Linked DNA regions of Homo sapiens: region 2 is linked to region 1. Evidence: fine-mapped expression QTL. A gene starts in region 1. The other region holds a variant in brackets. All regions are shown on one strand. Distances are from middle to middle.

What was found. PIP is the estimated chance that this variant, and not a neighbour inherited with it, causes the effect.
Region 2: its variant is the best candidate, but not a certain one, in a credible set for the expression of LMCD1-AS1 in nasal epithelium (TOPMed, PIP 0.78).

Annotation. Positions count from the first base shown.
Region 1 is chr3:8,499,216-8,504,215 of GRCh38, forward strand. LMCD1-AS1 (LMCD1 antisense RNA 1) reads right to left here and starts at 2,443. Exons shown (of 4, transcript NR_033378.1): 1 at 2,256-2,443. LMCD1 (LIM and cysteine rich domains 1) reads left to right here and starts at 2,608. Exons shown (of 6, transcript NM_014583.4): 1 at 2,608-2,765. The coding sequence starts at 2,724. RefSeq lists enhancers at 1-195, 196-1,129.
Region 2 is chr3:8,609,190-8,614,723 of GRCh38, forward strand. LOC107986009 (a long non-coding RNA gene) reads right to left here and starts at 2,754. Exons shown (of 5, transcript XR_001740420.3): 1 at 2,669-2,754; 2 at 2,039-2,170; 3 at 1-403. RefSeq lists enhancers at 1,489-2,370, 2,371-3,251. The variant T/G (reference allele first, on the strand shown) is at 2,568.

The sequences.
Region 1 (5,000 bases):
AAATGACTTCACTGGGCAGGCTTTTGCCTCGTTTGAAAGGGATAAAGCTTGCCTTTGTTATATTCCTGGCTTCTGTTCCCACAGCTCTAAAATATAAAGGCTTCTGGCATGACATCCTGATTTAGCACTATTGTTCCTAGGATTTGCTACTGAAAGGACTATTCATGTGGAAACCTCCTCTCCCAGGCCAGGCTTCTGTTGGCCACTGTTTATTTACATACTGGTTTAACATGCAGCCTACCTTGGAAGTTTGGACAAACCAGGCCAGGTGTGCCATTGCACCATCTCTCCCTATTCTTACTTTGCCTGCTTACTGCATGGAGGTAGAGAGTAGAAGAAGGTTACCAGAGGTTGGGAAATGGTGGGCTGGGGTGTGAGGGGATGAACAGAGGTTGGTTAATGCGAACAAACACTGTCTGATAGCAAGAAAAAGTCTAGCATTCAACAGCACAGTAGGGTGACTATAGTCAACAACAGTGAATTGTATACTTCAAAATAGCTAAAAGAGGCTAGGTGCGGTGGCTCACTCCTGTAATTCCAGCACTTTGGGATGCCAAGGTAGGAGGATCACTTGAGGTCAGGAGTTCAAGACCAGCCTGGCCAATATGGTGAAACTCTGTCTCTACTAAAAATACAAAAATGAGCCAGGTATGGTGGCTCATGCCTGTAGTCCCAGCTTCTTGGGAAGCCGAGGTGGGAGACTCACTTGAACCTGGGAGGCAGAGGTCACAGTGAGCCGAGATCGCGCCACTGCATTCCAGCCTGGGCAACAGCGCGAGACTCTGTCTCAAAAAAAAAAAAAAAAAAAAAAGAAAAGCTAAAAGTGATTTGACATGTTCCCAGTACAAAGAAATTATAAATGTTCAAGGTGATGGAAATCCTAAACACCCTGATTTGATCATTACACATTGTAAGCATATATCAAAATACCACATGTACAATCATGATGTATCAATAAAAAAAATAAAAGCCAGAACCCAACCTCTATTCATTTGCCAAATGTGTACTGTGCCTATACCACATGCTAGGTGTTTGAGGACATAGCTGGGAGCAAACAAGGCAAAAATCAATTATAGCAGAAATCTGTGAAAAAAGAAATAGGTCATCCCTCATCTTGGAAAAGATAAGCCACAAAAAGCCCTTTCCAGGAATATGTAATAAAAAGTCACAATTCAGGATCCCTGGCTGAGATTTGGGATGACTGGAGATGATGATAAGAACTAAATTGGAGGAGGCTTTCAAGAGGAAAAAGCCTCCAGCAAGAGACAGCCCCACAGTGGGAACTGCAGCCTCCCCTTCTCACCAAATCCCTCCCGAATGGTGTACTTCGGGACCACTCTTCAGTCTCTGTGCAACCGAGTTTTATTTTAGCCCACGGGACCCTGGTTTTTCTGGCAGGGGGCACTGCAAAGACGGGTTACAGGCCGAACACCTCACAACAGAGACAGCAGTATTCTCTCTAGGATAAAAAGGGCTTGTGTTTAATCCTCTGTCAGGGCAGGGGGGAAATGCCTCTGGAATCCAAGTCTGTGGAACCGGCTCAGCAGAGAGATGTGGCTTTATAGGCAAACAACGTGGCATAGAGAGAGGAACCTGGCCAATTCTGTCTTATAAGAGTAGTTATGTTATGCGTTGCAAGGACTCCACATTCCATGGATTTGTGAACTCAGATGGAATCTTGTTTGTCCAGGCCTGCATGACCCCATTTATCTAAAAATTACTAACTTCCTAGTTTATAGTTTACAATCCTGTGCCCGCCGCCTCCCTCCCCCCCCCCGCCACGCCCCCATGAGCTTTCTCTCTATTACTCTCAGTCTCTCAGGTTAAAGCCTTGCTCAGTAATTCAGCTGTGGACCAGTTATTCTGATTATTTCCTCATCTATCGTCTTACAGTCATAATAATAATAATATCTGAGATAATATGAGCATACAACAAGACAGTATGTCCACAGGAGCATCTCTAAGATCAGGACAGTGATTTCTTGCTCATGGAATAAGAAGGATTTATGTTAAAGCAAGTTATAAGAAAGCAGTTTAATACTTTACGAACGTTAAGTTTAAAAAAATCATAACTCGCTGGAATCTTTTCTCCTCTCTGGATATTGGAGAACTCGCCCAGGTTTGGGAAACGTTAGCCAGCTCCTGCAAAACACCTCCTCCCTCAGCCCTCCCCGCGCCCCCTACGACCAGGCAGAAAGGGTGGGAAGGGGAGCACAGCTCAGCATTTATTTCTGGATCCAGCTCACTAAAAATACCTCGGCTCTCCTGTTTGATCACTCTCCCTTTTGACCTGAATGGATCGCGGGAGCCGCGCCGCCCGCCCCACCTTCGGCCCGTTGCCCTTTAAAGGAAAAGGGCGTGGGGACGGATTCCTGCCGCTCGAGGGATAGAAGGGAGCTGGGTAGTCAGGGGCCGCGGCCATGCTGACGTCAGGGCAGCCGGCGCTCAGCTCCGCTCGCTGCCACAGTGCAGAGACCTCCCTGAGGGAGGGGGACAGCCTCGCGCTGGGATTGGCTGGCCTCGCGCGAGCGCCGGCGCGGAGTGGCTGGCGAGGTTTTAGAGGGAGTCCCGCTCTCCAATTAAAGCGGCCCAGCTGCGCCTGGCTGCGCACAGAGCTCCCTCCCAGGCCCGCGAACTTGGCCATTCAGCCGCCGCTGTCCCCGCTGCGCGCCCTCGCGCCTCTGCCTGAGAAGCCAGGCGCTGTTCCCCCACCCCAGAAGAGGATGGCAAAGGTGGCTAAGGACCTCAACCCAGGAGTTAAAAAGGTGAGTGGAAAGCTGTTTGTATTTACCCAGATTCTTACTTTTTCTTGTTCCCCTTCCCATCTGTTCGCGGAAACTTCCCAAAAGGTAATGAGAAGGGAACTCTTTAAATTCCAAAACTGCATGGAAAACAAATAGTTGGGAATACATGTTTGAGCTAACAGGCACACACACCCCAAACCCAATGTTGTGTAAAATATTTGCAAAGGGTCTTATGTCTTTGGTGATGCTAGTTAAAGTTTAATTAAGGTTTTACATATATATACAATATATATAAAATGTATATAAAATATATATATAAAATATATATAATATATATTATATATAATATATAAAATATATATTATATATAATATATATTATATATAAAATATATAATATATATTATATAAAATATATATAATATATATTATATATAAAATATATATAATATATAATATATATATATGAAATCTTATGGTCTGTAAAGGAAAAACCCCTAGCTTCCTCACTCCCTGTCCTCAGGTGGCTGAAGTAAGGGTTGAGAGCATGTAATATTTACTCACAGTCTCCCTTTTGCTATTATCCCAGTGTTTTGTGTGTTTCCCCCAATACACACACACACACACACACACACACACACACACACACGCACGCAGTTTCTTTAGTTGGTGATGTTGGCAGTGGCAGCAGTTCCAGCATAAGGGAACTGATTTCTGTCCCCAGGGTCTGCACGTTTCCCTTACAAGAAGGGCTGGCCCGGAGCCCAGAAGGTCATGGGTAAACTCCTGCACAGGAGCCTGCGGCTGTGCCTATAGCTCCAATACCACTTGTTGCCTACCTGAATGCAGCTGGGAGAAGGCACAGGCTGGAGACTTAGAGAACATGTGAACGGGAAGGGAACAGAGAGACAACCTAGGCTTTACAGATCGGGAAACTGAGGCCCGGGGTCACAGAGAGTTGGTTCTAACAGGCAGCTGACTGTAAGGCAAGCCCTAGGCATCCAGACTCAGTCCCTGCCACTTTTTAACTGCACATGATTCACCAGGTCACTTTTCTGAGCCTCAGTTTCCTTGTCTCTGATGTGGGGAGGATAGGCCTAACCTCCCTCATGGCAGTGGTAGCAGGGATACTGACACTGTGAGTTAATTTCCCAAAGCAGTCATTGTTAAACTCTGATTTCACAGGGTTTAGTCTTGAAGGGCAAAGTCTTCCTTAAATATCTGCCATTAACCTGCAGGGTAGAATGAGAGGGGGAAAAACAAAAGACGTGAGAATCAAACTAAAGACACAAACAGCCACTCAGAGGCACAGCATGCACTGTCTAATTTGTAGCTGTGCTCTTCTGTAGACCACCTGCCCAGACCCTGTCACAGAGTCCAGTGGATCCTTCTAAATGTGGGTACCAAGTCACATTGAATCTGGGCATTTGTCTGGAATGTATCATGCCTCACTGCATTTGCCAAGCTATTTGCAGAATCAAGTCATTTCCCCTCCTACAGAAATTACCATAACATTTTAGACTCTTAGAAGATACCTATTAATTGCTACCTAGTAGTGAGTTATGCATGCAATGCTCTTATTTCTCTATACATTTTTCTGGACTCCTTGAGGGCAAACCTGTCTTGTTCATCCCTGTTTGAACATAGCACACCATGCCACACAGCAGGACTCAAAAACCTGTGGGTGACTCATGAGAATATCTGTCCAGCTAAGACCACACTGTTTGCATAGGCTTCATTTTATGCATTATTTTTTAACTTGTAGCATTGATATTTGTGTGTCTGAACTGCCTCCCCAAGTTCAGACACAGAATAGTTCACGGCTAAAGGTGGCAGAGTTCCATTGTCCTCTGGAAAGTGAAATGATTCTGAGTATTTTTAATATAAGCTGGTTGATAGTTACTGTATGAGGTGAGATGAGGTATATGGAGACTCCTCCTCCTCACCACAGTCCTGTGTTGCCACTTGGAGGAAGCCTTGTTTTTATTTTCCTTTGCATAGGGGAGTGTGATTATCCTGATTAGAGGTGGAACATGTTCTCCTTCTTGTCACCCCCTAGTGCCAACTTCCTTGGCCTGCAAAGGGTTTGTTTTCCATTTAGATCCAATTACAGGCTTAGAGAAAGAATGTGGTGGGTAGAGATGAAAGGGCAGATTTTTTTTATCTCTTGGGACTGCGACAATCAGGAGGAAGATCACCATTTTGTAGGTTAACCAATGCCTTCAACTCAAAATGTGGAGGGGAGGGAGGAGAGCCG
Region 2 (5,534 bases), 110 kb after region 1:
TCTTAGGAAAGTTGTTACTAATCCCATTCATAAGAGCTCCACTCTAGTGACTTAATCACCTCCGACAGGCCCCACGTCCTAATGCCATCACCTTGGAGACATGACTGCTGGGAGGACACTTTCAGACCCTAGCAGGCAGTTAGTAGCTGGTGTGGTTTAATAGGCTGTGTTCCTCCATAAGAGAAAGATGGTTCAAAAAAGGCTTTAATGCCTTATCCTTTAGTAAGAATTCACGGTTGTTAGGAGAAAGGATGTAGGATTTTCAGACCAAACGTTTTGAATTTCAATTACGCCTTTCATACTTCCTCTTTTGGAAACGTGGAACAAGACATTTTGCTTTTTTTATATCCATCTGTTTCAACATTTTTCAAATGAGAAAAGGAATCCCAGCTTTCCTCCACATCTGGGGTGGGGATTAAATGAGGGAGAAAGAACTTTGTAATAACAACAAAAATATAAAGTACCCCTTAATGAGCACTTACTTTGTGCGAGGAATTATTTCATTTATGCATCTAAGTCCCACAATGACTCCACACTGTAAAAGTAACAGTAATAATGACAATATGTGACATTGGACTTAGCCGGGCCTGGTGGCACACACCTGTCATCCCAGCTACTTGGGAGGCTGAGGCAGGAGGATTGCTTGAGTCCAGGAGTTTGAGGCTACAGTGAGCCCTGTCGTGCCATTGCACTACAGCCTGGACAAAAGTGAAATCCTATCTCAAAAAAATGAATTAGTAGTAATAATAATTATTGAGTATTTAGTATGTGATATGGTTTTTGGCTGTGTCCCCACCCAAATCTCACCTTGAATAGTAATAGTCCCTACATGTCAAGGGTGGGGTCAGGTGGAGATAATTGAAACATGAGGGCAGCTTCCCCACACTCTTTTTCGTGGTAGTGAATAAGTCTCACGAGATCTGATGGTTTTATAAATGGGAGTTCCCCTAACACATGCCCTCTTACCTGCTGCCATGTAAGACATGTCTTGCTTCCCCTTTGCCTTCTGCCATGATTGTGAGGCCTCCCCAGCCATGTGGAACTGTGAGTTAATTAAACCTCTTTCCTTTATAAATTACGCAGTCTCCGGTATGTCTTTACTAGCCGAGTGAGAACAGATTAATACAGTATGTGCCGGGCTGTGTTCTAAGAGCCTTCCGTTAATTACGTATCTCTAGTCCTCACAACAGGTCTGGGAGGAGTAGGTACTCTTAATACGATCATTTTGCAGATGAGCAGACTAAGTTCGCAGAGATTGATGAGATGGTCTCAGGGCTAGGGTGGGGCTTAGCTAAGATTTATTCAAAGGCAAAAGTTGTTTTACAATTAATCATATACATGTTGTGTGTGTGTATGTACTACATACACCATATCTTGCATAATATGCATTGTAAGTAATTCTAGTCGCACAATGACTGGTAGAGGGGAGGCTCACCCAGGGCTCTACTGGTCACCTTGCCCTGAGCAATGATCACATGCAGGAAGCTGTGGATAGGACCCTTACTTGCCTTCCAAACTGAAGATGTTTCTACTCTCAGGTGTGGCTAAAGAGGTTACCTGGGACCAGTATGAGGAAACTGCCCCCTTGATTCCATTATCTCCACCTGGCCCCACACTTGACACATGGGGATTATTATAATTCAAGGTGAGATATGGGTGGGGACAGAGCCAAACCATATCACATACCAAGTACTCAGTAATTGTTATTACTATTAATTCTTTTTTTTTTTTGAGATAAGGTTTCACTCTGTTGTCCAGGCGGAAGTGCAATGGCACAATTACCAATTACTTGCAAAGAGGCCAAGCTGGCCTCGGCAACAAAGCAACCTGGGCCCACAACTCCTACTGAAGAAGAACAACCCACTTTCACCCAGCAGCTGCTGTGCTGGGACCTCCCAGCTGCAGCCCCAGGCGGCCAAGCTGCTCTCCTTACCCAGCCTCCTCTGACAGTTCCTGATGGAGAAAAGGGGAGCCTGCTGTTGCTGTCAGCTGGTCTGCACATTTGTGCCCTGGGCACCGCTGAGGATAACACACTCACCAGCACACCATGTTGACCGGCACGTTGCATTTCCACCCAGAATTTAAAACCAGGCAGTGGCCTGGCTCTGCACTTCCCGACTCTGTGACTTTGGGCAAGCGATTGAAACCCTCTGGACTTCCGTCTCCTCATCTGTAAAACGGGGATAAAAACAGCCCCTCCTTTATAAGCTTGTTGTGAAGACTTAGGGTCTGACCCTTGAAAAATGGTTAGAATAGTGCCTGTAACTTGGGAAAAGCTTAATAAATGTTTGCCATTGTTAGTACCTGAAGGGATCCCTTAAAAAAGCAAGGAAGTGGGGGAGCAGCCAAGATGGCCGAATAGGAACAGCTCCGGTCTACAGCTCCCAGCGTGAGCGATGCAGAAGACGGGTGATTTCTGCATTTCCATCTGAGGTACCGGGTTCATCTCACTAGGGAGTGCCAGACAGTGGGCGCAGGTCAGTGGGTGCGCGCACCGTGCGCGAGCCGAAGCAGGGCGAGGCATTGCCTCACTCGGGAAGCACAAGGGGTCAGGGAGTTCCCTTTCC[T/G]AGTCAAAGAAAGGGGTGACGGATGGCACCTGGAAAATCGGGTCACTCCCACCCTAATACTGCGCTTTTCCGACGGGCTTAAAAAACGGTGCACCACCCACCTGGCTTGGAGGGTCCTACGCCCATGGAGTCTCGCTGATTGCTAGCACAGCAGTCTGAGATCAAACTGCAAGGCGGCAGCGAGGCTGGGGGAGGGGCGCCCGCCATTGCCCAGGCTTGATTAGGTAAACAAAGCAGCCGGGAAGCTCCAACTGGGTGGAGCCCACCACAGCTCAAGGAGGCCTGCCTGCCTCTGTAGGCTCCACCTCTGGGAGCAGGGCACAGACAAACAAAAAGACAGCAGTAACCTCTGCAGACTTAAATGTCCCTGTCTGACAGCTTTGAAGAGAGCAGTGGTTCTCCCAGCACGCAGCTAGAGATCTGAGAACGGGCAGACTGCCTCCTCAAGTGACCCCTGACCCCCGAGCAGCCTAACTGGGAGGCACCTGCCAACAGGGGCACACTGACACCTCACACGGCAGGGTACTCCAACAGACCTGCAGCTGAGGGTCCTGTCTGTTAGAAGGAAAGCTAACAACCAGAAAGGACATCCACACCAAAAACCCATCTGTACATCACCATCATCAAAGACCAAAAGTAGATAAAACCACAAAGATGGGGAAAAAACAGAACAGAAGAACTGGAAACTCTAAAAAGCAGAGCGCCTCTCCTCCTCCAAAGGAACGCAGTTCCTCACCAGCAACGGAACAAAGCTGGAGGGGGAATGACTTTGACGAGCTGAGAGAAGAAGGCTTCAGATGATCAAATTACTCTGAGCTACGGGAGGACATTCAAACCAAAGGCAAAGAAGTTGAAAACTTTGAAAAAAATTTAGAAGAATGTATAACTAGAATAACCAATACGGAGAAGTGCTTAAAGGAGCTGATGGAGCTGAAAACCAAGGCTCGAGAACTACGTGAAGAATGCAGTAGCCTCAGGAGCCGATGCCATCAACTGGAAGAAAGGGTATCAGCAATGGAAGATGAAATGAATGAAATGAAGTGAGAAGGGAAGTTTAGAGAAAAAAGAATAAAAAGAAATAAGCAAAGCCTCCAAGAAATATGGGACTATGTGAAAAGACCAAATCTACGTCTCATTGGTGTACCTGAAAGTGACGGGGAGAATGGAACTAAGTTGGAAAACACTCTGCAGGATATCATCCAGAACTTCCCCAATCTAGCAAGGCAGGCCAATGTTCAGATTCAGGAAATACAGAGAATGCCACAAAGATACTCCTCGAGAAGAGCAACTCCAAGACACATAATTGTCAGATTCACCAAAGTTGAAATGAAGGAAAAAATGTTAAGGGCAGCCAGAGAGAAAGGTCGGATTACCCTCAAAGGGAAGCCCATCAGACTAACAGCAGATCTCTTGGCAGAAACCCTACAGGCCAGAAGAGAGTGGGGGCCAATATTCAACGTTCTTAAAGAAAAGAATTTTCAACCCAGAATTTCATATCCAGCCAAACTAAGCTTCATAAGTGAAGGAGAAATAAAATACAGACAAGCAAATGCTGAGAGATTTTGTCACCACCAGGCCTGCCCTAAAAGAGCTCCTGAAGGAAGTGCTAAACATGGAAAGGAACAACCAGTACCAGCCACTGCAAAATCATGCCAAAATGTAAAGACTATCGAGACTAGGAAGAAACTGCATCAACTAACGAGCAAAATAACCAGCTAACATCATCATGACAGGACCAAATTCACACATAACAATATTAACTTTAAATGTAAATGGACTAAATGCTCCAATTAAAAGACACAGACTGGCAAATTGGATAAAGAGTCAAGACCCATCACTGTGTTGTATTCAGGAAACCCATCTCACGTGCAGAGACACACATAGGCTCAAAATAAAAGGATGGAGGAAAATCTACCAAGCAAATGGAAAACAAAAAATGGCAGGGGTTGCAATCCTAGTCTCTGATAAAACAGACTTTAAACCAACAAAGATCAAAAGAGACAAAGAAGGCCATTACATAATGGTAAAGGGATCAATTCAACAAGAAGAGCTAACTATCCTAAATATATATGCACCCAACACAGGAGCATCCAGATTCATAAAGCAAGTCCTGAGTGACCTACAAAGATACTTAGACTCCCACACATTAATAATGGGAGACTTTAACACCCCACTGTCAACATTAGACAGATCAATGAGACAGAAAGTCAACAAGGATACCCAGGTATTGAACTCAGCTCTGCACCAAGTGGACCTAATAGACATCTACAGAACTCTCCACCCCAAATCAACAGAATATACATTTTTTTCAGCACCACACCACACCTATTCCAAAATTGACCACATACTTGGAAGTAAAGCTCTCCTCAGCAAATGTAAAAGAACAGAAATTATAACAAACTATCTCTCAGACCACAGTGCAATCAAACTAGAACTCAGGATTAAGAATCTCACTCAAAACCACTCAACTACATGGAAACTGAACAACCTGCTCCTGAATGACTACTGGGTACATAACGAAATGAAGGCAGAAATAAAGATGTTCTTTGAAACCAACGAGAACAAAGACACAACATACCAGAATCTCTGGGATGCATTCAAAGCAGTGTGTAGAGGGAAATTTATAGCACTAAATGCCCACAAGAGAAAGCAGGAAAGATCCAAAATTGACACCCTAACATCACAATTAAAAGAACTAGAAAAGCAAGAGCAAACACATTCAAAAGCTAGCAGAAGGCAAGAAATAACTAAAATCAGAGCAGAACTGAAGGAAATAGAGACACAAAAAACCCTTCAAAAAATTAATGAATCCAGGAGCTGGTTTTTTGAAAGGATCAACAAAATTGATAGACCACTAGCAAGACTAATAAAGAAAAAAGAGAGAAGAATCAAATAGATGCAATAAAAAATGATAAAGGGGATATCACCACGGATCCCACAGAAATACAAACTACCATCAGGGAATAC